7 linked regions of the Homo sapiens genome follow. The protein of the gene in region 1 purifies or fractionates together with the protein of each later gene. This does not show direct contact. Each region holds a gene or a part of one and is shown in the gene's direction. Other genes may lie near its edges. The genes, in order: ZSCAN21, ARL8A, SCAND3, LRP1B, FRAS1, ZMYM4 and SCPEP1.

Region 1 (3,500 bases):
GTCTTAGGTTTAAACAGATGGCATCTAGCCAGTAGATAGCTTGATAAAATCTCAGAAACTATAATATCTATAGTGGTGAGATTCTGAACTAGTTTTGGAGCAAAGTTAACTTTAAAATTATGCCACATTGCACTTTTTAGGAAAGTGGAGACCACTGAAATCAAAGTAGGATATCCTGAGCTGATTGCAGAAAGATTTTTTTTTTTTTAGAGATGGAATCTCGCTCTGTTGCGCAGGCTGGAATGCAGTGGCGCAGGCTTGGCTCATTGTATCCTCTGCCTCCTGGGTTCAAGCAATTCTCCTGCCTCAGCCTCCCAGGTAGCTGGGATTACAGGCATCCATCACCACGCCTGGCTAATTTTGTATTTTTAGTAGAGACAGGGTTTCACCATGTTGGCCAGGCTGGTCTCAAACTCCTGACCTCATGTGATCCACCCGTCTCAGCCTCCCAAAGTGCTGGAATTATAGGCATGAGCCACTGTACCCAGCTCATTCCAGAAAGATTTTGAGCAGTTGTTTTTGTATGGTAGTTTTATGGTGGACATAATTTCCACAATTTCTTGTGTTAAAGGTATGGCTGTAAAGACCCAAAAACACTTTTCAGTTTGATTATTTTTTGGTAACTATATTTTCTTAGGTTTAACTTGTGGCCCTAAAGAACTGGAAACCCAAAGGAACGAATATTCCTGCCCCACAGAGTCCCATCTTTGGTGAGGCTGTTTCTGGAGTTTACATGATGACCAAGGTACTAGGCATGGCCCCAGTTCTGGGCCCTAGGCCTCCACAGGAGCAGGTGGGGCCTCTGATGGTAAAAGTCGAGGAGAAAGAAGAGAAAGGCAAGTACCTTCCTAGCCTGGAGATGTTCCGCCAGCGCTTCAGGCAGTTTGGGTACCATGATACCCCTGGACCCCGAGAGGCCCTGAGCCAACTCCGGGTGCTCTGCTGTGAGTGGCTGAGGCCCGAGATCCACACCAAGGAGCAGATCCTGGAGCTACTGGTGCTGGAGCAGTTCCTGACCATCCTGCCCCAGGAGCTCCAGGCCTGGGTGCAGGAGCATTGCCCGGAGAGCGCTGAAGAGGCTGTCACTCTCCTCGAAGATCTGGAGCGGGAACTGGATGAGCCAGGACACCAGGTAGGCAGGAGAGACCTTTGTTATTCTAGGAGATTGGGAGCGTAACATTCTAGGCAGGAACAAGGGTTTGTCCATACATTAAGATTTGCTGAATGGAAATTTCTGCTGAATTAGACCTTGTTTCCTCCTATTTTTCTCTATCATCCTAAACTAACTTTTAGCCTTGGGAATGGAATGGGATGGGTGTTTTCCTTTTCTCTTTCCTAGAGGTTCTATGTAGCTCTACTGGGATTTTCATTCTTGGTCTTAAAGTGAGCCATGCACAAACCTAGCCATTCCTGATTGTCTCTAGGTCTCAACTCCTCCAAACGAACAGAAACCGGTGTGGGAGAAGATATCCTCCTCAGGAACTGCAAAGGAATCCCCGAGCAGCATGCAGCCACAGCCCTTGGAGACCAGTCACAAATACGAGTCTTGGGGGCCCCTGTACATCCAAGAGTCTGGTGAGGAGCAGGAGTTCGCTCAAGATCCAAGAAAGGTCCGAGGTGAGGACCACCCATTAGACTCCTATTCAGTGCCCCAGGCCCCTGTGGTTGGAGAAGCAGAATAATTAGTAATTCTTGGTTGTGAGGTGATTTCATAGATTGACTTGATTAGTTGGGCTGACTGGGTGGAAATAGTCCCCTTTCCTCCCCCAAGTAAGGCTGTCTTAACCTGGGCCCTAGCATGGGAATGGATCACTCTTAAAGGATCAGTTTCTCTTTGAAGTCTGAGTATTACAAATAATTTTTTTTAAAGGGTCAATTGAAATGAGTTTAAAAAAGAAACTGTTAACAGAGGTGTAGAGACTTCAAATGAACCAATAAGGAATAGTGTTGCACCAGACAACAGTGAAAAGCTGTTACTCCCTGTGAGCCTAAAGGGACAGAGGGGGACCCTCTTACCAGAATCAGGTAAGAGCTATAGTCATGGAGGAGGGGGTCACTTGATAGAAGTTGTGGCTGTAGGCCCTGCTGTGGGATGAGGAGAAAACGGAATAAATACCCCAACTGCACCCTCCTCCTGCCCTTAAATCTCCTGCTTTTGTTCCCCAATGACAAACTCAGTTGGCAGCCAGAGGGCAGGAAAGACAAGACAGTGCAGCCCTTAGGGTCAGCTTCCTGGGGCACAGGGCGGGTCAGAGAATGGATCTGAGAAGGGCAAATGGGAAATAATTGGCAACCTCCTTTCTGAAGCTATGGAAAGAGGTGGGGCATTTTTCACAAGTCAAAGCTGTATTAGGTGACTACTCCTGAGCTCAAATCTCCATATATTATGGTTTATAGAATAATCTCAGGCCATAAATGGTCATCCCCTGTGGGGGTGTTTTTGTGTGTTTTTCTGAGACAGGGATTCCATCCGTCATCCAGGCTGGAGGGCAGTGGCGTGATCATAGCTCACTGCAGCCTCAATCTCTGGGGCTCAAATGATCCTCCCACCTCAGCCTCCCAAGTAGCTGGGACCACCATGTCTGGCTAACTTTATTTTTTTGTACAGACAGGGTCTCACTATGTTGCCCAAGCTGGCCCTATGTTATTTTGTTATTTTATGGGTTCTACTCTTAAGTACCTTCATTTACCAGAAGGATTAGAACTAAATCTTTGAAACAGAGTTAATGTTTAATTATATGTTTGCAAAAATATGGCATATTATTCCAAATCCTAATAGTTTCAAACCAGGACTTTGCTTACGTGTTGGTGGTGTAGACCACTATTTATGTGTGTGGTGTGATTTCATGACAAGAGTCCATGGCCCTCAGAAATCTCCCTCCATGCTTGCTGTGTCTGAAACGTGAAACTCCATCATGGAAACAGAGTTTCGAGCCGGTTAAAAATCACATTTTCTAGGAAAAGTAAAAAATTAAACTGTTAGCTAAATTCTTCATGGTTTATGGTGAACACAGTAGACCTCTCCAGGCAATTGGGGTTTCCCCAGAGTTGCCACAGTAATTAGAGATAAAAATAGCCGGAGACCTATCTGGTCAGTTTTATTTTCCATATCTCTTGGTGTAGCCCCTTGGCAGTATTACACAAAGAGGAGGGTGGAGTGGAAGGATTATCAGAGCCAGGAACAGGCTTGGGTTTTAGTACCCAGATGGGACAGAAGACAAAGCTGCTGGGCCCTCCTAAGGAAAGGGAAGTTGGCTGTGAAAGCTTTGCATAAAGTCTTTTTTTTTTTTTTTTTTTTGAGACGGAGTCTCCCTCTGTTGCTAGGCTGGAGTGCATTTATGCAATCTCGGCTCAGTGCAACCTCTGCCTCCCAGGTTCAAGAGATTCTCCTGCCTCAGCCTCCCGAGTAGCTGGAACTACAGGTGCACACCACCACGCCCAGCTCTTTTTAAAAAAACAGAGTTTCGGTCTTGTTGCCCAGGCTGGAGTGCAGTGGCGCT
Region 2 (3,955 bases), on another chromosome or scaffold:
ACCGCTGCACTCCAGCCTGGGCCACACAGTGAGACCCCATCAAAAAAAAAAAAAAAAACAATATTATGCTAGCCGAAACCTTGTGATTCTTCTACTTTGGTAACTGTTTGACTATTTGGGGTCATCTAACTCCAGTTGATTGGACAGATATGGTTGATATTGATAGTTTACCCACTTTTGACTAAAACAATAGACTACATATGACTACATTTGAAAACCAAACCCCAACGGGCAGCCAGCATAGGCTGGGGACTGCCCGAAGCCTGAGCCTACCCGGGACTGCCAGCTGAGGTTGTCAGCCTGCCTGAGCAGGTCCTATGGGTGGGTCTTGCAAGGAGAGGGGCAGGAGTAAGGCATCTTTGCAGGCACTCCAGACCCACTTCAAGAGGAGAACTATCACTTCTCCTCCTGAAGAATACTCTGCTTTTCACCAAAACAGGGCAACATTTTCCTTTGTCACAGACGTTCCTCACTGAAAACCCCCTGCCAGGACTGTATCTGTTTGGGTATCTTGGGGATGCTGGTAAAAATCCGGAGCAAGTTCAAGCGTCCGTTTCACTTGGGGCCAGAGGCTTCCTAACAAGTGGTCGGGGTAAATTGTGGTGAACAAAACAAGATGGAGTATTAAAAGACCCGAATACGGTTGTCCCTCTGCACTGGGTGCATTTTGAGAGGATGGGACTGTACCCAGGAATGCTCAGAGGCAAGGGTTCAGGGACAAAAAAGCCTCCATCTGCCTCCCTGTCGTAGAGATCTCATCTCCGTGTCCTGGGAAGTGGGTGACCCACTCTCCTTCAACCTGAAAAGGCTCCTGCTTAACCGGAACCTCACCCACCTCGAGCCCACCACCCTTTAAGAAAGGGGGTGCCAGTCAGGGCGCGGCAGTCGGGGACAGGGTCTAAAATAAATTAGACCCCATTTCCCAAGCGCCTCTCGACGCCAGCTGCCGGTCAACCCCCGCCGCTGAAGCCTGCGGATTCCCTGCTCACCCCACCTGCGGATTCCCTGCTCACCCCACCTGCGGGTGCGGCCCCTGGCCCCCCGGCTCCAGCGAGGGAGGAGCGCGCGCTCGGGTGCGAGCAGGACACGGCCCGGCCGCGAGGGAGGGCGGCGGCGGCGGCGGAGGAGGAGGGCGCGGAAGCCACACCCATCGGCGAGCCGATTCCGGGGCAGCGAGTCGTCGGCAGCCGCGCTCGAGCCTCCGCCCGCACCGAGCCGCGGGACCCGGGCCGTACCGGGGAGGGGCCGCTCCGGGCCGCAGCGCGAGGGCAGCGAGGGGCGGCGGGGACCTGGCACCGGGCGGGGCCGGCGGCAGCGACCATGATCGCTTTGTTCAACAAGCTGCTGGACTGGTTCAAGGCCCTATTCTGGAAGGAGGAGATGGAGCTCACGCTGGTCGGGCTTCAGTACTCGGGCAAGACCACCTTCGTCAACGTGATCGCGGTACGAGGGCGTCGGGCGCGGGGTCCCCGGGCGCGGGCCGCGGGTCGGGCCTGTCCCCGCCCGCGCCGCGCCCTGCTGAGCCGGGGTCGCCGCCTGGCATAGCCGGGCACGGCCGGGCGCCGGGCGGGGGAGGAGCCGGCCCCGAGCGCTTGGGGCCTAGTACGGCCCGTGCCGTGGGGGACCGGGGCGGCGCGCGACCCGCTCTCTCACCCGGGCCGGTACTGCACGGCTGGGGGCAGGGGAAGGGGGACGAACAGACAGGGCCGGTGCCACGGGGCAGGCGGCACCGAGGGGCTCTCGAAGCAGGAGGGACCCGCTGCCGGCTGAGACGGGCCCCCTCTGGCCCCCGCGCAAGGGGGCATGACGGGGCGAAAGTGCACGGGCCTTCCTGTCCCGCGGGTAGAGGGTCACGGGACGGGGCGGCCGAGAGGCTTGAGGAGGGGGTTTGGGCAAGCCCAGCCCCACCCAGAGGGCTTAACCCCTCCTTGCCGGAAGAGGAAGCCCCGGCCCTATTGAGGGGGAGGGGAGGTATCCCCCGGGGTAGAGGAGTCAGCTGAGGCCCTTGGCTCAAGCCCAGACTCCTCCCCAACTTCTCCCCGACCCGCAGTGTCTAGCCGGGGGTCCAGGGAGGATCGCATGGTAACGGGAGTTTGGAGACTCCGTCTGGCTCAGAAGTTTGCAGGAGCAGGTGCTCCCGACAAGAGAGGATGAGGTGTAGGGGCACGGCCCACTGGGGCCTTGGGAGAGTGGCTCTAAGGGCTTTGGGTCGTCAACACTGAAGTGGGTGATTGTAAGTCTTTCAGCGCCAGGGGAGTGGTGGGGAAGGAGTTAAAATCTCTCTCAAAAAAGGGGAAGATGAGCTCCATGGGTGTGAGCTGAGGCTGCCGTAATGGCTGCGGCCTGCCTGTCAGAGCCAGGCTAGACAGGGCTTGTGGGTCGAGGAAGCATGGGACAGGGGCTGGGGTTGTCCAGGGACCTGGCCCCAGTCCCAAAGCTGAGGTTTCCCACAACTGTGAGTTGGCCAGATAGTAACCAAAGATACTGATGAGATAGGTCAGCAGAGGAATGTATCCAGCCGGCCTAGGTACCTCTACCTGTCCGTGTTGTTGCCCCACCTTGCAGAAGATGGGCCTCCTCGACAGTTCTCAGCGTCCTAGAAGGCAGGGGACGTCACTTCATTGGACCTGAGGCATGAAGGCAGATGGAAAGCTCGAGGGGCGGGCATCCTGTGGTTACACAATTGAACACTGGCTTCCTTTCCCAAACATGCTCTGCAAATGACCTCTGCCCTTTCTCGACCCAGTGTCTCCTGTCTCCTGACCTGACAGGGCAGGATCTTCAGGCCAATGCTGCGGTTTTGGCACAGTAATTTTCGGAGCTAACACCCCTGGGCTCTGTCTGCCTAGGCTCTGCCCTTGGGGTCAGAGACCCTCTGGTTAAACTTGGCATTGACTTAGGCTCTTGGATTCCCAGAGCAGGCACATAACACCTGGACTCTGACCTGACTCTGCAGGCCTAGGTGGCTTGGGTTCTAGGCGTTTAGGTCTGAGAAATGCAGCTGGGCCTAGGTATCTCCTCGTTCCCCAGGGTGTTACTATAGCTGTGCTCTGGGACAGGGATCCACAGGTACCCGGGTGGGTTCGGTTTCTGGGTCTGCAGTTGAGCCTTTGACAGGAGGGCCCCCTCTAGACCAGCATCATATCCAGAGAGTTGGAGACTATAGCAGGCCAGAAACAGAACCCAAGAGTCCCAAATTCCCCTGCCAGGGTCAAGAGTTCCTGTGATATACAGGAAAAGCACCCCATCTCCAGCCCACAAGGTCCCCTTTTTAATCTTAAATTTGCCACTTCCGCTGGCACATTCTAAAAGAGCAGGCAAGCTAAATTCCCTTCTTTAGAGAGGCTTCCCAAGGAAAACCACCCCATGTGGGCTGCAGTTGGAATTCCAGTGTCCCGGTCACTCCAGTGTTTTCAGATCCTCTGGGGCTACCACACTGGCATTGCTGCCCACCCCGTGTATAATCACAGTTGAGTGTCTTCCAGAAAGAAACGAAGAGTTGGGACCCCTGGGCTCTGTTCCCATGCCTACCACTGAATTTCTGAATTACCTGTGCCTGTTCATTTGGCCTCTGTTTGTCTCAGATCTTTCGCCATTGGGTTTTTTCTACTCACCCTATGAGGTCTGGCTGTAAATAGAAATTGAGTTTAGTGTGTCTAGCTGCTCAGCAGGTTAATGTGAGCTGGAAAGAAATTATATACACTGCTTCTAAGAACCTGAAACATCAGCCGGGCATGGTGGCTCACGCCTGTAATCCCAGCAATTGGGAGGCCAAAGTGGGGGTTTCACCTGAGGCTAGGAGTTCGAGACCAGCCTGGCCAACATGGTGAAACCCCATCTCTACTAAAAATACAAAAATTAGCCAGGCATGGTGGTGGCCACCTGTAATCCCAGCTACTTGGGAGGCTGAGGCAAGAGAATTGCTTGAACCCAGGAGGCGGAGGCTGCAGTGAGT
Region 3 (3,500 bases), on another chromosome or scaffold:
CTCCAGTAGTCACTGAGCTTTCCTCAAATATCACAGTTCTCATTTTACCTCCCAATACAACTTCTTTACTGCAGCCCCTTAATCATGGTGTGATTGCAATCTTTAAAGCTTATTATTTAAAGCAAACATTCAAGATATTGGTTGCCTATACAGGGGGTGACAGTGCCCTAACATTTTTTGAATTCTGTAAATGATTCAACATTAAACTTATTATTGATATTATTGTAGAGGCCTGGAATGATTTCACAAAAGCCTGTTTGCACGGGGTGTGATATACAATTCTCCCTGATTTAATTTATGATTCCAAAGCCTTTGAGCCTTCAGAAGATCTCCCCAAAACCAACCCAAGCTGTATCGCTCTTGCAAAGGGGGTTGGATTTGAAGAAGTTGCTAGTGAGGATAATGCGGAGCTGCTGCAATCTGACACACAGGATCTTTCTACAGAAGAGCTGCAAGTTAGTTGCTGAGGCACAAATGGAAGGTGTGGAGGAAGAAGAACATGCAGTTCCACAAGCTACAAGCTGCCTCCCAAGAGCTTTTCACTTCTCAGTTATCTTCTGCTTCAAGTATGATAGAGAAGCAGTTGGAGTAGATAAAAGATAATGACTACAATGCAGAACGCAGCATGATTTCACTTCATGACATAAAGCCCTAATTGGACCCATATAAACAGCTTCTTTATGAAAGAAGGAAAGTGTTAAAACAGCAAACACTGGGTATCTTTTTATAAGCCAGTGTCAAATAAATAAAAACAAGATGATAAACGGGAACCCACATCATGTTTCTTGTAGTATCACTATATCCAAGGGTGGAAGAATATAACATCAAATGTTCAAGCGTCTTCACTTGGATTTTTGATGATTATATCTTTCCACCTTTGAATTGTTGTTGTTGTTGTTTGTTTGTTTGTTTGTTTTGAGACAGAGTCTCGCTCTGTCCCCTGGGCTGCAGTGTAGTGGCACGATCTCGGCTCACTGCAAGCTCTGCCTCCGGGGTTCAGTCATTCTCCTGCCTCAGCCTCCCGAGTAGCTGGGACTACAGGCGCCCGCCACCACGCCCGGCTAATTTTTAGTAGATACGAGGTTTCACCGTGTTAACCAGGATGGTCTCAGTCTCCTGACCTCGTGATCCGCCCACCTCGGCCTCCCAAAGTGTTGGGAATACAGGCGTGAGCCACCGTGCCCGACCCACCTTTGAATTTTTGATGATTATATCCTTCCACCCTTGCCCCCCCTTTCCTCACACTTGTTTCTAACAAGATAACATCACCTTTCTAAGGTAAAATCCTATACTTAAAGTAAGATTTATTAATGTCTTATATTTTTACTAGAGTTTTTATAGTGTTTTTTATTTTATTTTATTTTTATTTTTATTTTTTGAGACGGAGTCTCACTCTGTCCCCAGGCAGGAGTGCAGTGGCAGGATCTTGGCTCACTGCAACCTCTGCCTCCCTGGTACAAGCGATTCTCCTGCCTCAGCCTCCTAAGTAGCTGGGATTTACAGGCAAGCGCCACCACGCCCAGCTAATTTTTGTATTTTTAGTAGAGACGTGGCTTCACCATGTTGGCCAGGATGGTCTCGATCTCTTGATCTCATGATCCGCCCGCGTCAGCCTCCCAAAGTGCTGGGAGTACAGGCGTGAGCCACCGTGCGCCAGCCGGGAGTTGTTATAGTTTTAATAATGCTCTAGTGACAAAGTTGTGTAGGTGTTAAAATAGTCCACCCTTTAACCGTATTTTCCCCATAAATCCTGTCACTTTTCTGCAGTTTTGCAGAAAGCATGTTTTTTTAATACATTCATATGTTATGTTGCAGCACAAATGCCTATATAAGCAGTTTCTCACGTCTAGTCAGCACACCCTTTTCTCTTTGCTTTAAATAACAAATACTGTAGTTTTTTTCCCCCTTAAGATATGCCTGTTACTTTAGAATAGGGGTATCCAATCTTTTGGCTTCCCTGGGCCATATTGGAAGAATAATTGTCTTGGGCCACACTAAAATACACTAACACTAACGATTGCTGATGAGCTTAAAAAAAATCACAAAACAATCTTACAATGTTTTAAGAAAGTTTACAAGATTGTGTTGGGCCACATTCAGAACTGTCCTGGGCTGCAAGTGGCCTGCAGGCTGCAGGGTGGATAAGCTTGCTTTAAAATTTCCCCTTCTAGCTTTGTTGAAAAATGTAGCTTCTGGTAGGACTTGGTGTTTGGTCAGTTCCTTGGGTATTGTTCAGGTTATACGCTGATCATGTTTGATAGTTTTTTTAATGTGGTCAGAGTTATAAATATCTCTTAGTGTTGTTGAATATCAAGTTTGTATAAATGTTTCTCATTTTTCTTGTTTTTGTGTGATTTCCCCCACAGGGGAAATACCACTGGCAGACACTTTTAGCTGCCAACCCAGTGTCTATTCTACCCTTCTTTCCTCCCGACAAAATGTTGGTTTTGTTCATACTGGCAATATATCTAATTAAATTCTTTTCCAGGCTTCCTTGTTCTAGAGTTAACTATGCAACAGAATTCTGGCCAGGGAGAAATAAGCATATTTCGGGGAGGAGGTTCCTGGGGAAGCTTTTATTTTCCTGATAGGATAGGGGAGATTACTTTAGTTTCACCTTTTCTCACTTCCAGTCTTGAACACTAATATGATATCTGGCCATCTTCTGACCATTAAGTGATGGTAAGCATGAGGCCAAATGCTAGTGTTAAAAGTGACAGAGCAGAAATATGAAGACAGCTAGGGTCCCTGAAAAACTGTTAGATAAATGAGTTGGTGCCAGCAACTACCTTCTTCTAGGCTTCTTGTTATGTAACAAAAATAAACCCCTATTTGTTTGTGCCACTGTAAGTTAGATGTTCGAATTTATTGGAAATATGTGCATTTCTAATGAACACAGCAATATTTACTCTACCATATTACAACCAAAAGTTTCTTTCCAGCATTTTTATTTATTTATTTGAGATGGAATCTCACTCTGTCACCCAGGCTGGAGGGCAGTGGCACGATCTTGGCTCACTGCAACCTCCACCTCCCAGGCTCAAGCAATCTGCCTTCCTCAGCCTCCTGAGTAGCTGGGACCACAGATATGTGCTACCATGCCTGGCTAATTTTTTGTATTTTGGGCAGTGATGAGGTTTCACTATGTTGCCCAGGCTGGTCTCGAATTCCTGAGCTCAAGCAATCCTCCCACCTCGGCCTCCCAAAGTGCTGAGATTACAGATGTCAGCTACTGCACTCAGCTTCTTTCCAGCGTTAAAAAAAATCAAACCCAGGAATTGAATACTGAAAGACTAATGACTGTCATGACCAGTTTGAAGTAACTTCAGTTTTGTAATTTATTACCACTACCCAAGGTACTCTTCAAACTTCTGTGGTAGAGGCAGAAGTGGAGTTCCTCCCGGTTCTAAGACCAGGCCCACCCATTTTGGTCTAGTCCAGCTGGTGGAAAAGTAGAGGAATCAAGAGACTAGATTTGTGTTTGTGCTTGGGGGGGTGGG
Region 4 (3,500 bases), on another chromosome or scaffold:
AGGTAGGTCATCAGAAACAGCTTAAAAGAAAACCTCAAGACAGGTCTATTTGCGTGAATGGAAATCTATACAACAAACCCCCATGGCACAAGTTTATCTAGGTAGCAAACCTGCACTTGTATCCATGAACTTAAAAGGTAAAAAAATAAATAAGTAAAAATTTTAAGAAAGAAAAAAGAAAGCCCCAGGGAAGTTTGAAATTGAAGCTTTAATATTTTAAGTGGATTAATAAAAGCAATGACAATTGATAAATCTTCTACTACAAATATTGTGAAAAATGATTATACCTTCAAAAATATGACACAGCAGGTCACAGATTAAAGATGTGAAAGGACAATAAAGCTAGTAATAAGTTAAAAATAATTTTGGCTTTTTTGAAACGTGGTAAGAATAGGAGTCTGAATTGAGGGTATGATGATGCTATTTTGAGCTCTTCTTTTCTAGACCTTAATGAATGTTTGGTGTTTGGCACATGTTCCCATCAATGTATAAATGTGGAAGGATCATATAAATGTGTGTGTGACCAGAATTTTCAAGAAAGAAATAACACCTGCATAGCAGAAGGTAAGATTATAACCACTATTGCAAATCCTATTACAATTTTGTTGTAAACATTTTATGGAGAAAAATGTTTTATATTTCATTCCAGCAACAGCTTCATTTCTGATAAAATACTTTTAATGATGATTAATTTGGCCAGTTGGTTAGTTAATATTAATGAATTTAATCTTAGATGGTTTATGGAAATGACTATGAAATATATGGTTACTGTTAAAATCACATTGTGTCATTGTGTTCAAAACAATTTTTCAAAAGGGGTAAAATTTTAAAAGCCAGTGTGATAGAATGTGAAGTATCTCTCTTGATGGTCTGCTCTAAGGGAATATGAGAAAAATTATACCCCAGGGATAAAAATAAACATTAGCATTATAAGGAGAAAGGAATTTTGAGTAAGGATTTTAAAGGTTTTAAAACAAGATCTTGCTTTCAAATTTAGAAGTCCTCCACTTACCAATATTATTTTTTAAAAAGATTAAATGATAGGCCTGGTGCAGTGGCTCATGCCTGTAATCCCAGCACCTTGGGAGGCCAAGGCGAGTGGATCACGAGATCAGGAGTTCAAGAACAACCTGACCAACATGGTGAAACCCCGTCTCTACTAAAACTACAAAAATTAGCCAGGCGTGGTGGTACACACCTGTAGTCCCAGCTACTTGGGAGGCTGATGCAGGAGAATCGCTTCAACCCAGGAGGCAGAGGTTGCAGTGAGCCAGGATTGCGCCACTGAACTCCAGCCTGGGTGACAGAGCAAGACTCCATCTCAAAAAAAGAAAAACAAACAAACAAAAAAAGATTAAATGATAAACTAGGGTTCTGGGCAATTGTAGGTATAGATTTTAATATTCATGTGTTTATGCTAAATAATACTGTAACTTCAATATTGTTGGCTACAAAGTATGATTGGACATTATTAAGATTGTTATTACAAGAAGAAAACAGGATGATGTAATGGATCAACTGTGGGCTATAGCATTTGATATGCTTGGATTTGAATCCCAGCACAGCACCTTTTAGACTGTGTGGCCTCAAGGAATTCACTAAAGTGTCAGAGCCTCAGTTCAGTTTCCATAGTTATAAGAAGTGGAGATAAACTGTGAAAGGCTTAACATAGCGTCTGACACATAATAAGCATTTGCTAAGTGACAGCTATTAACATTACAGAGCTGAAAGGCACCTCATGAGGTATTATTATTATTATTTATTTGCAGAAACTATGTATGCAATCGAACATCTCTTTAGGGCTTCGTTAATATTTTAATTGATAATTTTGGCATTTGCTTTAGGGTTTTACTTGTTAGTATGAAAATGACATTAGTACTCTATTGTAGGTGTCAAAACTTTAGAATAGAATGTTACACTTAGCAGGATTCTAGATAATTTAGAGATTATAGAACTTTAATGGAATAAATACTGATATCTTTTTATGTTAAAAGTTAGTAAGCATTTAAGATGTATAAATACAGTAAGAGGAAGATTCTTCATATTTTAATTTTTATTTCTTAGCCTAAAGTAATGATCACTCAGGTGCATAAATTAAGTAATCAGAAACTTTTGAAGCTTAATGAGTATACAACATAGTACTTGGATATTGACAATTGATGCATTATAACCTAGTGTATTGTGACTTATCAAATAATAATCTCTCTTCATAAAAGGACATTTATATGTACATAATTTCTAGCCATAAGGAAAGATTGGCAGTAGAAAAACCTCTATCAATAATTATTGTAAATGTTTAGATAAGTGAGTATCAGAAATAATAAGCCATAAAGACTAAAAGACAATATAAAACTGGTTGATTTTTGAGGAAAAACTGTATTAAGAATAATAATTCAAGATAATTTAAAAGTACAATTATTGCTTTTAACATTAGTTGAAATTTACTTTATTTTTGTATTTTATTATAATAATCTCCAGGCTCTGAAGATCAAGTTCTCTACATTGCTAATGACACTGATATCCTGGGTTTTATATATCCATTCAACTACAGTGGCGATCATCAACAAATTTCTCATATTGAACATAATTCAAGAATAACAGGGATGGATGTATATTATCAAAGAGATATGATTATTTGGAGTACTCAGTTTAATCCAGGCGGAATTTTCTACAAAAGGATCCATGGCAGAGAAAAAAGGCAAGCAAACAGTGGCTTGATTGTAAGTAAATACCATTGTATATTTGAAAGTCCATACCTTTTCCCCACCTGCTTTTTAAACAAAATTTATCTAATATAATATCTAATTATACTAAGTAATATATTCAATTATTCTCCCAATATTCTCCTTAAATAGAAATAATGCATTTCTCTACTCATTCTCATAGCTGTACATGATTTATTTTAGTTGCATGCTTTTATGTTTTTGCTTTAATGTATTTGACTATTATATAAGAATGCTAATGAATGACATATAACATCTCCAGAACATCTATTTCATAGTGCTTTACAATTATTATGAACATAAGCTTTTTTATCATGAGATGAGATTGGGAAACATCACTTTATTTTTACATTAGAAAGTAGCGTAATGCAGGGATAACTATTTCTCTTCTTACATTATCATAAATATACTTCTACTGTAGGGCAGGACATCAACTCAATAGTGTAACCATTTCTTCTGACTCCTGATAACTATATTTCAGGAAATATCCAAAACAGAAATATTGTGCACTTGTGTATGCTGGACATGTTGATTATCATGGTTATTGTTTTTGAGAAAAAATAAACTGGAACATGTTTCAATTTATGGTTGTAGATTAGATTATCCCTTTTTGTTTTAGGGCATGTCAAGTTATTGTGTGTTTTATATTTTTAAGTAACCTGGAAGGAAAATGACAGATAAATATGTGTTTTTATAGGGCCTGGCCCATTCCTGTACAACCAAAAAGTCAAGTGGTGTCCCAGCAGGATGTAATTGAAGCTTTGTGTTTAACAAAAA
Region 5 (3,500 bases), on another chromosome or scaffold:
ATACCATTCCCTAGGCAGATTTCTGTACCTGGTTTCATGCTCTCTTAACATGACATACCTTCCTCTATTGTGGAATGTAACAGTATAGCATTTGGGTGATTAATAAAGTATTGTGGTGGTTTGGTTTGAGAGCATAGTACCTTGACTTGGAATCCCACCCTCACCGTTTGCTTGCTTTGTGACCTTCAGCAAATCACTTAGCCCCACTCAGTGCCTCAGGTTTCTCATCTGCAAAATTGTGAGCACTCCATGAGTTATTACATGAGAGGACTTGGTACAGTACCTGGAAAATAGTATGAGTTTGATAAATATGAGCCTATTTTAGTCAATCACTGTGAGTTTGTTTCCATCCTCTCAACTGCATCTCACACACCTTGGTATCCCCTGTGCATAACAGAATACTTTGCTTCCCTTAAATGCTTAATTAATGCTTATTGAAAAAAAGAAGGCATAAATGTTCCCTAGCAAGAAAACTCAGAGAAAAAAAGAAAATAAGAATAAAAACGAAGCAATAAATGAATGAGTATTTTAGGGGCACATGGAATCATGGAGCTCTTCATAGAAAAGTGCTTTTCACTCTTAAGGGAGCATGTTTAACCCCTTTCAACCCTTGACATTTGTTTTTCTTTCATCTTAAAGTCTGACCTAATTAATACCTTTCAATCTTTTCAGGTCAAATCCTTTATGGCCGAGTACTTTGGAATCCAGAACAAAATCTTAATTCTGCTTACAAACTCCAGCTGGAGAAAGTCTATCTTTGTACGGGCAAGGATGGTTATGTGCCTTTCTTTGATCCCACGGGGACAATCTACAATGAAGGGCCCCAGTATGGATGCATTCAGCCAAACAAACACCTAAAACACAGATTCCTGCTGTTGGTATGCTAAGTTCTCACTATTAGTGTTAAAGAGCAGACACTTGAGCAGATTTCCTCAGCTATGACTTCTGCCTAAAGTAGATAGAGCTCACTCTTGATATTTTCTTCTCTATATATGTTTGTGTTGTTGTTTCTTTCAGATCAGCTAAATACTAGTACATAGGTGGTAGTTACGATGAGTAACAAGACAAACTTCCATTGATGTCCTCAGAAAAGGAAACTCTCGGCCAATGTTTCTCAGAGTATGGTTCAGAGACCTGGAGTGTCCCCATACTCTTTCAGGGAGTCTACAGAGTCAAAATTACTTTCAAAATAATATGATGATGACTCTTTTTTTCATACTTATTCCCTCATGAGTTTAGAGAGTTTAAAAAGTTTATCAATAAAATTTCAGATTCCACATTGTAATGAATCTTTAAAAAATAACCACTCACCAAGTTTTGATTTAGTATCAAAAAAGAGGCAGGGCGTGGTGGCTCATGCCTGTAATCCCAACATTTTGGGACACTGAGGTGGGAGAATCACTTAAGCTTAGGAGTTTGAGACAAGCCTGAGAAACATAAGGAGACCCCATATCTACAAAAAAATATTTGAAAATTAGCTGGGCTTGGTGGCATGCACTTGTAGTCACAGCTACTTGGGAGGCTGAGGTGAGAAAATCACTTGAGACTGGGAGGTCAAGGATGCAGTGAGCCAAGATTGCACCACTGCACTCCAGCCTGGGCAACAGAGCAAGACCCTATCTCAAAAAAAAAAAAGAAAAAAAAAAGCCATAATTGTTTGAAAAAGCTATTAACTACATAGCTTTATGAGGCCAGATTTTCTTCATACACTTTAGACAAAACAGCATATCACAACTGATGGAATTCAGAAGCAGTTATGAGAATCCAGTTTTTTCCCTGAGATTACAAAAATGTAAAACATTGCCAGCTCTCTTTATTGAGGAAGGGAATGAATTTAGGTATTTTCACTAAAAAATATCTTACTTAAGTTAACATGTAATGAGTTTCTTATTGTCAGTTTAAAATGAATTAATAAGTAAACACTTAAAATTTTTTCAGGTTTAATTTTTAACCGAGTAAATGTCGATAGATATAAGTCACATAAACAAAAACTCTCTGGGGTCCTTGATTTGTAAGTGTGTAAAGGGTCCTGAGACCAAATAACTTGAGAAGTATTGGGCTAGAATATCCCACTTTTTGCATTTTGAGATCACAAAAGCCACCACATGTCCTTTTGAAAAGGACAGTGGGTTCCCAGAGTTAGTGTATTAGTCTGTTCTCATGTTGCTAATGACATGCCTGTAACTGGGTAATTTATAAAGGAAAGAGGTTTCATTGACTTACAGTTCAGCATGGCTGGGGAGGCCTCTTACAATCATAGCAGAAGGGGAAGCAAATACATCCTTCTTCACATAGGGGCAGCAAGAAGTGCCGAGCAGAGGGGAAAAAGCCTCTTAAAAAACCATCAGAGGTCCGGGCGCGGTGGCTCAAGCCTGTAATCCCAGCACTTTGGGAGGCCGAGGTGGGCGGATCACGAGGTCAGGAGATTGAGACCATCCTAGCTAACACAGTGAAACTCTGTCTTTACTAAAAATACAAAAAAATTAGCCTGGTGTGGTGGCAGGCTCCTGTAGTCCCAGCTACTCCGGAGGCTGAGGCAGGAGAATGGCATGAACCCAGGAGGTGGAGCCAGCAGTGAGCTGAGATCGCGCCACTGCACTCCAGCCTGGGCGACAGAGCAAGACTCCATCTAAAAAAAAAAAAAAAAAAAATCAGATCTCATGAGAACCCACTCACTATCACAAGAACATCATAGAGGTAACTGTCACCGTGATTCAATTACTTCCTATTGGGTCCCTCCCATGACACATGGGGATTATGGGAACTGTAATTCAAGATAAGATTTGGTGGGGACACAGCCAAACCATATCAGGCAGCCACTGACTTATGGAGAGGGCTTCACAGCACATACTCTCTCAACTCAACCTAAAGCCAGGAGTGATGAGTACTTTTCTCCTCCCAGTCACTGCCACCTACCAATATAGTGGAACCATCTTTCTAAATCTTGCATTTCTTTTTTCTGAAATCCTAGGACCGCAATCAGCCAGAGGTAACTGATAAGTACTTCCATGATGTGCCTTTTGAGGCTCACTTTGCCTCTGAGTTGCCTGATTTCCATGTGGTCAGTAACATGCCAGGTGTGGATGGATTTACTCTAAAAGTAGATGCACTCTATAAGGTGAGTTTGGTGAGAAGAACAGAAGCTTAAGACCAAGTCTACTTTAAAGCTTGAAAAAAAAAAAAAAAAGAAGGAGGACTGCAACATCTCTGGATTCTTCAACATTCTGCCATTCTTGCTGGCAGATCTTTTCTTATTGTTAAGCTTATCACCCACCCAAAATTTTCACATGTATCCCCAGTAGACCAAAACAATTATACAATTATTGACTTTGCATATAGTCACTTGTCATTGTGCACATCATGGCTGCATATGACACTCCAGTTTTTCCTAAGTTCTTTTATATTGCATCCCTTTTTGGTTCTATGCTAGCCCAGCTGATTTTCACGGACATATGAAAAACATTTAAAAAATCATAATACAATACAGCAATTTAGAATAG
Region 6 (3,850 bases), on another chromosome or scaffold:
CATATCTATGTGGATTTTGAACCACAAAACAAATTACCTTGTCTTCATAATTATTTTATGAAAATGTCTTCAAAAGCAAGAATCACTGCTATTGTTTGATCTTTACAACTGTTGTACAACCTTTATGTGATACCTAATCTGTAGTTATTTTGTTATTTGTATAGAAAAGAAATTTTGTTTTGCTAAAGCTATAATAGAAAAACAATTTTTAAGGAATTGAAATTTTCTAAGTAGTCCTTTTCTTAGAGGAACTTTATGATTTTAGAGTTGTAACACTTTTTTTTCTGAAAGAAATGTAATAGCTTCATTTGCCCTTTGATAATGTGTATTGAGTGCCCTTGGAGTTCATTCCAGGATATTGGGCACTTCCAATATGTGGTGCTTGGCCATAGTGTCACATGTGAGTTGACTTTTTTGTTGCTCTTAATAATGTTTGAAGTACTAAAGTTTATGATTTACACTTTGTCTTATATTAACTTTATACTCACTTCCAATCCATTGTGATTTCAGTTGATTCCTGGGAGGAAATATTCCTGTAAACTATTTATCTCTGTGGGTACCTTGCTTTCCCCATTGTGAGTCACAGTGGAGAAAGGTTGAGAGCCATATTAGGTTGGTGCAAAAATAATTGCAGTTTTTGCCCTTACTTTTAATTACTTTTAATGGCAAAAACCTCAGTTTACTTAAGAATAGTACATATTTCCTATACTCTCTGATTTCTAATTTTCTTTTTTCTCTTTTTTTTTTTCCCCTGTGGATAGTTCTGAAAGTGTGAAGCAAAGGAATGATGTGTTTTACCTTCAACCTGAGCGCTCCTGTGTCCCGAATAGCCCCATGTGGTACTCCACATTCCCGATAGACCCTGGAACCCTGGACACCATGTTAACACGTATTCTCATGGTGAGGGAGGTACATGAAGAACTTGCCAAAGCCAAATCTGAAGACTCTGATGTTGAATTATCAGATTAAAACGGAAGTGAGGTTCTTATTTTCATACATATTGGTATGCACCAAACTGTGAATGCATCCAGCTGTTGGAAAATGATGTATAAGTCTAAGTCCTCTTGACTTGACCATAAGATCATGGAAAACAGATGACTTGTGAACCCCACAGTGTGGATGTGCAAATGAAAATTGAAGGAAAGAATATGAACTGAGAAATGTTCTTTGGCAGTGATATAGTTCTTAGACATCTTCAGAATGACTAATTTCTCCGAGTGGTGCATAATCTTATTTTGTTTGGGAGTAACAAATCGTGGAATATTTTTAAGGAAAACTGTTGTATAAAACTTTACCATAGTAACCTTAGACCTTAGAGAGGTAGCTTTGGAGTGAAACTTTGGCTGCAATAGGCTACTTTGGCAAGCCCTCCGTAAAAGTCAGAGGAGAGATCAGTACAGAGCTAAGAGTGACATCAAATGAGGACTGTGGGACCCAGATTTGAAGACCCAATAAAAATACTCAACTTTTTAAAAAAGATAGTGAAGTGGTCTTGATTGATTTTGATTTTCACTGCCAAGCCAATCATGTGAAGGACAGAAGCTTTTGCCATGGGCCCCTCACATCAGGGAAAATGACCTTCACTGCTGTTAACAGTAATGTGTCCCTTTCATTTTCTGGATCAAGCCTTCTCAGCGGTGGGTCTGGATGTGGGTAAACTAAGGTAAAGGGGATGATATTCCACAAACTAATTATGCACACAGAAAATCTGTGGAGCCTATCAGACCCCAAGTGTCTTGAAATGTTTGTAGAAACCCACTAAAATGCCCCTTCTCTGGGTGTGGGCCCTTATTGCAGCTGTCTCACAGCCTGAGCTGTGGTACAGAGAAATGGGGGTTCTCCTTTTATTTTCATTTTTTTTCCCCAATGGCAGCTTTTCTCCCGTTGTTTTACCTTCCTATTTCCCAAACAGTTCCTCTTATTTTGTCTTTTGCACCAGTTTCTGGAGGCCCTTGTCATTTCAAAAAGGATAGTCTCTTTTCTTACTCTGGCAAACCTGTGAGTGATTCCACAAAGATACAGTATTACTTAGCTATCTGAATTATGATAGAAAAGGTCCTAGTTAGGTTCCTATATAAAGCATTTGGAAGATGACCTTGTTGCCCTTGAAACTTGAAAATAGGGATTCTGGGGTGAGGATACAAAGACATTGTCTTGCATATCCATAAGCAGGTCTTAGAGCATTATTCCAAACTCTAGCTGTTTCAGTAGTTCTATGAGGATTGCAAGTCATAGGTGTGTGTGGCATATCAGTCCATCTCCCTCATCTCCATTCTCAGTTTCTTCCCCACAAAATTTGGAATCAAAGCTTTTATGACGTTTGCCAATTGCAGAACTTCTTCAGCTAAGGTTAATTTGACGCTATGATAAAACTGAGAGATGTCAAAAAGCCTCTTAGAAATTTTAATCTTGAAAGACTTTTCAGGGTATCTCATTTTTTAGGTGGGGGTGGCAGGTGTATTTCTTTTTTAACAAATAAAAGGCATTTAAGTAAAACTAAAATGAAAAAAGTAGGCCTTCTGACATTGTGTACTTGGTGGTTCTGTCCCTCTGCCTGTAACAAATCTCATTTTTGTTACCAAGAACTGTATGAAAGAAGTAAATCCACCCCGATTCTGTATGATTAATTCCATCTGTGTTTGTCATTTCTGACTGGAAAACTTCTTACTCCATACCTTGTTCGATATGGAGGACAAATAATTGGATTGTCTGATAAGTCTGCCAATAAACTATCCAGAAATAGCAAGTGTAATAGTCCCCACTATACGAATTTTATGGTTTGTATAAACACTAACATTTTCCCCTTCTGTAGTTGTATGAAAAAACAAATATTGTTAGCATAGTAGATAAATTGTTATGAAATACCAGAAAAAAAAATCTGTATCTTTTACTGAGAACACCCAATACCCAGATAAATGACTGTATCAGGATTTCATTTGCATGTTAGTCCACAGAGTTGCCCAGAACCCTAAATTTATTCATAAGAGAAAATATTGATTAATTATTGGTCATTCCTCATAAGTGTAGCTGTTGATGTGTGCGTCTGATTATTGCTTTTTTAATTTTATGAAAATTGTGTAAAATTACATTTTTTTTCCAGGGGAGAAAAAAACATCAAACAAAAACATCTAAATCATCCTTTTTGTTCTTTTTCAGTTTTTAACCACTTTTAGGTTTTCCCCTTACAGAAACCACAGAAATATTCCCTTAGAATAAAATAGTATATTTGTATTTGATGGGTGAGTTCTTCTTCTTTACGTCTTAAAAGAATTTGAAATCTCTTTTTCTGATTGACCTTATTGGTATGACCCAGCAATTAGTAAAATTACAAAGAAAGAGAGCAGTTTCCGAGAAAGAAATTTTTTTTATGTAGTCCAGTCAACATATTTTTTCATTGCAAGTTCTTTTATTTCCTTTTTTCCATCAAAAGACTTGTTCCCATTTTTAGCTAATTTACTGACTATATTCAAAGTCCCAACAGGTAGAAATATCAGAGATCATTTATACATATCATTTCAGGCAAACTTTTTTGAGATTTACAAAGCCTACATCAGTTCAACTTTAATGAAATTGTAAGACTAGAATAAAGGATATGTTCATTCTTAAGTATAAATACATGTTTAAAACAGGAATGTAAGACTAAATAGCATTTTCCTTCGACTTCAGAGTTGTCTTGGTATTATGCAGCTGTACTTTCAAATTCCGTATCGACTTTCTACCTACCTGCCTTGTGGCAATCCTAAATTTATAAAACAGGTTTTCCCAAAAGATCTAATGTAAAATGAATTTCTATTAATGAATTCAGAATTTAATTTTCCAAAGAAGTCTCCTAGGGTATTGAGTTGAAGTT
Region 7 (3,500 bases), on another chromosome or scaffold:
CCACGTTTTGTAGGTGAGCAAATAGATACAGAGACAGTAAATGACTTGTCAGGGCTGGATGCAGTGGCTCACGCCTATAATCCCACCACTGTGGGAGACTGAGTTGAGAGGATTGCTTGAGGCCACAATTAAGCAACATAGTAAAGCCCCATCTCTTTAAAAAAATAGAAAAATTAGCTGGGCATGGTGGCATGTGGCATATAGTTCTAACTACTTGGGAGGCTGAGGTGGGAGGATTGCTTGAACCCAGGAGTTTGAGGGTACAGTGAGCTATGATTATGCCACTGCTCTCCAGCCTGGGCAGCAGAGAGAAACCCTGTTTCTTAAAAAGGGGAAAAAAAAGACATCAAAATTGATTCAAAATAAGGAGTTGGTAGGGAGCTGAGTGGGGAGGGAAATAATGTGTAATTGGTTGTGAGTTAATAATTGTTGAAGCCTGGTATGGGTACATCGGAGCATTGTATGCTTCTCCTTTCTATCCATTTGAAATTTTCCATAATAAAAAATTAAGATAAAAAAGCTACATCGAAGGCCACAGTTGGTTGCAGATGAGATTTCGCGCCAAAGGTCCTTGCAGGATGTCAGAGACACCCAGGTGCTCGGGCAGATTTTGACCAGCTCTCTCTTGCTGACCTCCCCAGGCATCCTGATGCTGGATATGGCCAGGCATTACTGCGTTCTGGTCTCAAGGCCATGGTGAGGAAATAATGAAATCCTTAGAGACCAGGGCCAGGTAGAAATCTTGGTTAAGTTCCTACTTTAGTCCTATAGGGAGGCCTTGAGCAAGCAGAGATCTCAGGTTTCTGAAGGGAAAATACTCCAAACCTAAGAGGGTTTTGTTTCATGTGTGTTCAAGATACCCCAAGGATATGGGGTCAGTGGTCCTGCGGCTGCTGCTGGGAGCCTACGATTTGCTGCTGCTGGGAGCTTTCTCAGGGGACATGGGCCCTCCTCTCCCAACCTGCAGTCACCAGAGGTCTCATTCCATCCCTGGTTTTTTCATTACTCCTGAGTGCTGGGAGAATTTTAGAAATGAAGAAAAATTAGCTCAAATGAAAAGAGCTGGGTGTGGCCGGGTGTGGTGGCTCACGCCTGTAATCCCAGCATTTTGGGATGCCAAGGTGGGCGGATCACCTGAGGTCGGGAGTTCGAGACCAGCCTGACCAACATGGAGAAACCCTGTCTCTACTAAAAATACAAAATTAGCTGGGTGAGGTGGCACATGCCTGTAATCCCAGCTACTTGGGAGGCTGAGGTGGGGGAATCGCTTGAACCCGAGAGGCAGAGATTGCGGTGAGCCAAGATTGTGCCATTGCACTCCAGCCTGGGCAATAAGAGTGAAACTCTGTCTAAAAAAAAAAAAAAAAAAAAGAGCTGGGCGTGGTGGTGTGCATCTGTAGTCTCAGCTACTTGGGAGGCTGAGGTGGGAGGATCGCTTAAGCCTGGGAGGTAGAGGCTGCAGTGAGCTGAGATTGTGCCCCCGCTCTCCAGCCTGGGTGACAGGGTGAGACTCTGTCTCAAATAAGTAAATAAATAAATAAAAATTAAATTTTTTTAAAAGAAGACTTCTTATCTCCCAAGGTAATGAAGAAGAAAATGGGATGTTGCTTGTCAGATGCCTCCTTGGCAGTGACTAGCAAATAATGGTGGCTGCCACTCTTATTGCTGTCATTCAGTGTTAGGATAATGCTGATGGGCAGGAGCTAGCAAGAGTACTAGCTCCTCTCTTGCCTGGGGCTTGTTATTCATTTGGCTTTCCTGAGGGCCAGCTCTGAATTGGTTTAGGTTTGATCTGGTTTATTATAAGGTAGGCCTACCTGTTCAGAACTTGAAACTTGGCCCTGGTGTTACTCAAAAAAACAGGAAAACTGACATTGGCCCAAAGCACAATTTATTCCCTGAGTGTACCAGCCTAATGAGTATTTCCTGGGCCTCTCCCTCCCTGTTTCCTTGGACAGTAGCCTATTCCAGGTGTCAATTCCTCATTAAAAATGGTGCCTGCTGTCATCACAAGCTCTCAAGAGAATGGACCACATGTGCTATTTATGTGTGCCTTACACCTGACCAGTCGGCACAAATTTCTGGGCTGGTTCATCCCTGTTTGTGAAGCATCTGTGCATTCAGTCGTTGTTCGGTGCTGGAGCCCAAGATGCTCTGGGCTGAAAGGTACCTCCTGTTTTGGCAGATTCCAAGCTACTCCCTCTTTCTCCTTCCCCATGTGCAGGCCAGGCTACCAACGTCTTTGTGAACATGGAGGAGGACTTCATGAAGCCAGTCATTAGCATTGTGGACGAGTTGCTGGAGGCAGGGATCAACGTGACGGTGTATAATGGACAGCTGGATCTCATCGTAGATACCATGGGTAGGAATTGACTCTGAGAGGCACCTAGAGGCAGTTTTATGGGTTCAACTGGAAGGGAACTGGCCTTGGACATGTCAGTCTTGCGGTGGGTGATGTTGAAATGCCAGGTGGAAGGCCATTTCCCATTACATCCGTCTACCCCGACCTTGATTATTCAAAGGGTGGGGAGCTGCACGTGGCTGTGACCCCTCAGAAGCCTGAGCCTACCTGGGTTTGGGGGCCCTTAGGTATGATTAAAGAAAAGAACACCACCTGTCTCTACCACAAAACTTAGACATTTTCCTGGTTATTGGGCAAATGCGCTGTTTAATTAAGGGAGAGCCTCATTTTTGTGCGACATCACAGTCGATGTTGACCACTGCAGAGTGAATTAAAACTAAACCCTAATGACTGTAACCCTGAAGACCCAGGGGAAATGGTCTTTGTGGAATCCTGACTCCTGCCCTATCACCTACCACCTGTTTAATTTGCTCACTTCCAAATTAAATAGGGCCTGGTGGAGGCTCAGAGACAGGTTCTCTGAACTGGCAGGGTAATTGAGGCACAAGGTCTGACGGATGTGACACGCCTCGTGAACCAGAAGGATTGAATATTTTTGTGATGGGTAAACAAGAGACACCAAGGACAATTTGGAAAGCTGCTGCATTTCTCGATGAACATCCCAGGTGATCCTTATCACTATCTCGTTCACGACATCTCTCAGTCCTCCTCACAGGCCTGTCTGCCTCCAGAGGTCCCCAGTTCCCTTCCTAAAGAGCAGATGGCGGTGAGAGATGCAGAGGCAAAATCAGTCAGGCTTTGCAGCTGTTAGGTTTCTCCCAGCAGCCTAGGTTTCACTGGGAGTCAGAAATGCAGATGCTCAGGCCCTACCCTGATCTTCTGAATCAGAATTTGCATTTTAACAAGATCCTGAGTGAGTTTCATGCATATTGCAGTTTGGGAAGCACCAACTTTTAGGACCTAGACTTTTTTCCTATTCTATCCAGCTGTTAATGCCAGGCCTTTCTCTTTGTCCTTCTCACCAGGTCAGGAGGCCTGGGTGCGGAAACTGAAGTGGCCAGAACTGCCTAAATTCAGTCAGCTGAAGTGGAAGGCCCTGTACAGTGACCCTAAATCTTTGGAAACATCTGCTTTTGTC

Evidence for each region.
Region 2: the proteins of ZSCAN21 (region 1) and ARL8A purify together in Homo sapiens (affinity purification with mass spectrometry; one large-scale study listed by BioGRID and IntAct). This does not show direct contact.
Region 3: the proteins of ZSCAN21 (region 1) and SCAND3 purify together in Homo sapiens (affinity purification with mass spectrometry; one large-scale study listed by BioGRID and IntAct). This does not show direct contact.
Region 4: the proteins of ZSCAN21 (region 1) and LRP1B purify together in Homo sapiens (affinity purification with mass spectrometry; one large-scale study listed by BioGRID and IntAct). This does not show direct contact.
Region 5: the proteins of ZSCAN21 (region 1) and FRAS1 purify together in Homo sapiens (affinity purification with mass spectrometry; one large-scale study listed by BioGRID and IntAct). This does not show direct contact.
Region 6: the proteins of ZSCAN21 (region 1) and ZMYM4 purify together in Homo sapiens (affinity purification with mass spectrometry; one large-scale study listed by BioGRID and IntAct). This does not show direct contact.
Region 7: the proteins of ZSCAN21 (region 1) and SCPEP1 purify together in Homo sapiens (co-immunoprecipitation; one large-scale study listed by IntAct). This does not show direct contact.

What each region holds. Positions count from the first base shown.
Region 1 is NC_000007.14:100,056,274-100,059,773, forward strand, and holds part of ZSCAN21 (zinc finger and SCAN domain-containing protein 21), read left to right. Parts: intron 1-637; 5' UTR 638-733; coding exon 734-1,132; intron 1,133-1,424; coding exon 1,425-1,617; intron 1,618-3,500. UniProt on the Homo sapiens protein: Strong transcriptional activator. Plays an important role in spermatogenesis; essential for the progression of meiotic prophase I in spermatocytes.
Region 2 is NC_000001.11:202,141,938-202,145,892, reverse strand, and holds the start of ARL8A (ADP-ribosylation factor-like protein 8A), read left to right. Parts: upstream 1-1,155; 5' UTR 1,156-1,320; coding exon 1,321-1,443; intron 1,444-3,955. UniProt on the Homo sapiens protein: Plays a role in lysosome motility. In neurons, mediates the anterograde axonal long-range transport of presynaptic lysosome-related vesicles required for presynaptic biogenesis and synaptic function. May play a role in chromosome segregation.
Region 3 is NC_000006.12:28,580,799-28,584,298, reverse strand, and holds part of SCAND3 (SCAN domain-containing protein 3), read left to right. Parts: intron 1-3,500.
Region 4 is NC_000002.12:140,350,017-140,353,516, reverse strand, and holds part of LRP1B (low-density lipoprotein receptor-related protein 1B precursor), read left to right. Parts: intron 1-444; coding exon 445-564; intron 565-2,478; coding exon 2,479-2,720; intron 2,721-3,500. UniProt on the Homo sapiens protein: Potential cell surface proteins that bind and internalize ligands in the process of receptor-mediated endocytosis.
Region 5 is NC_000004.12:78,536,323-78,539,822, forward strand, and holds part of FRAS1 (extracellular matrix organizing protein FRAS1 isoform 1 precursor), read left to right. Parts: intron 1-672; coding exon 673-878; intron 879-2,971; coding exon 2,972-3,118; intron 3,119-3,500. UniProt on the Homo sapiens protein: Involved in extracellular matrix organization. Required for the regulation of epidermal-basement membrane adhesion responsible for proper organogenesis during embryonic development. Involved in brain organization and function.
Region 6 is NC_000001.11:35,418,709-35,422,558, forward strand, and holds the end of ZMYM4 (zinc finger MYM-type protein 4), read left to right. Parts: intron 1-761; coding exon 762-969; 3' UTR 970-3,350; downstream 3,351-3,850. UniProt on the Homo sapiens protein: Plays a role in the regulation of cell morphology and cytoskeletal organization.
Region 7 is NC_000017.11:56,998,631-57,002,130, forward strand, and holds part of SCPEP1 (retinoid-inducible serine carboxypeptidase precursor), read left to right. Parts: intron 1-2,224; coding exon 2,225-2,362; intron 2,363-3,387; coding exon 3,388-3,500. UniProt on the Homo sapiens protein: May be involved in vascular wall and kidney homeostasis.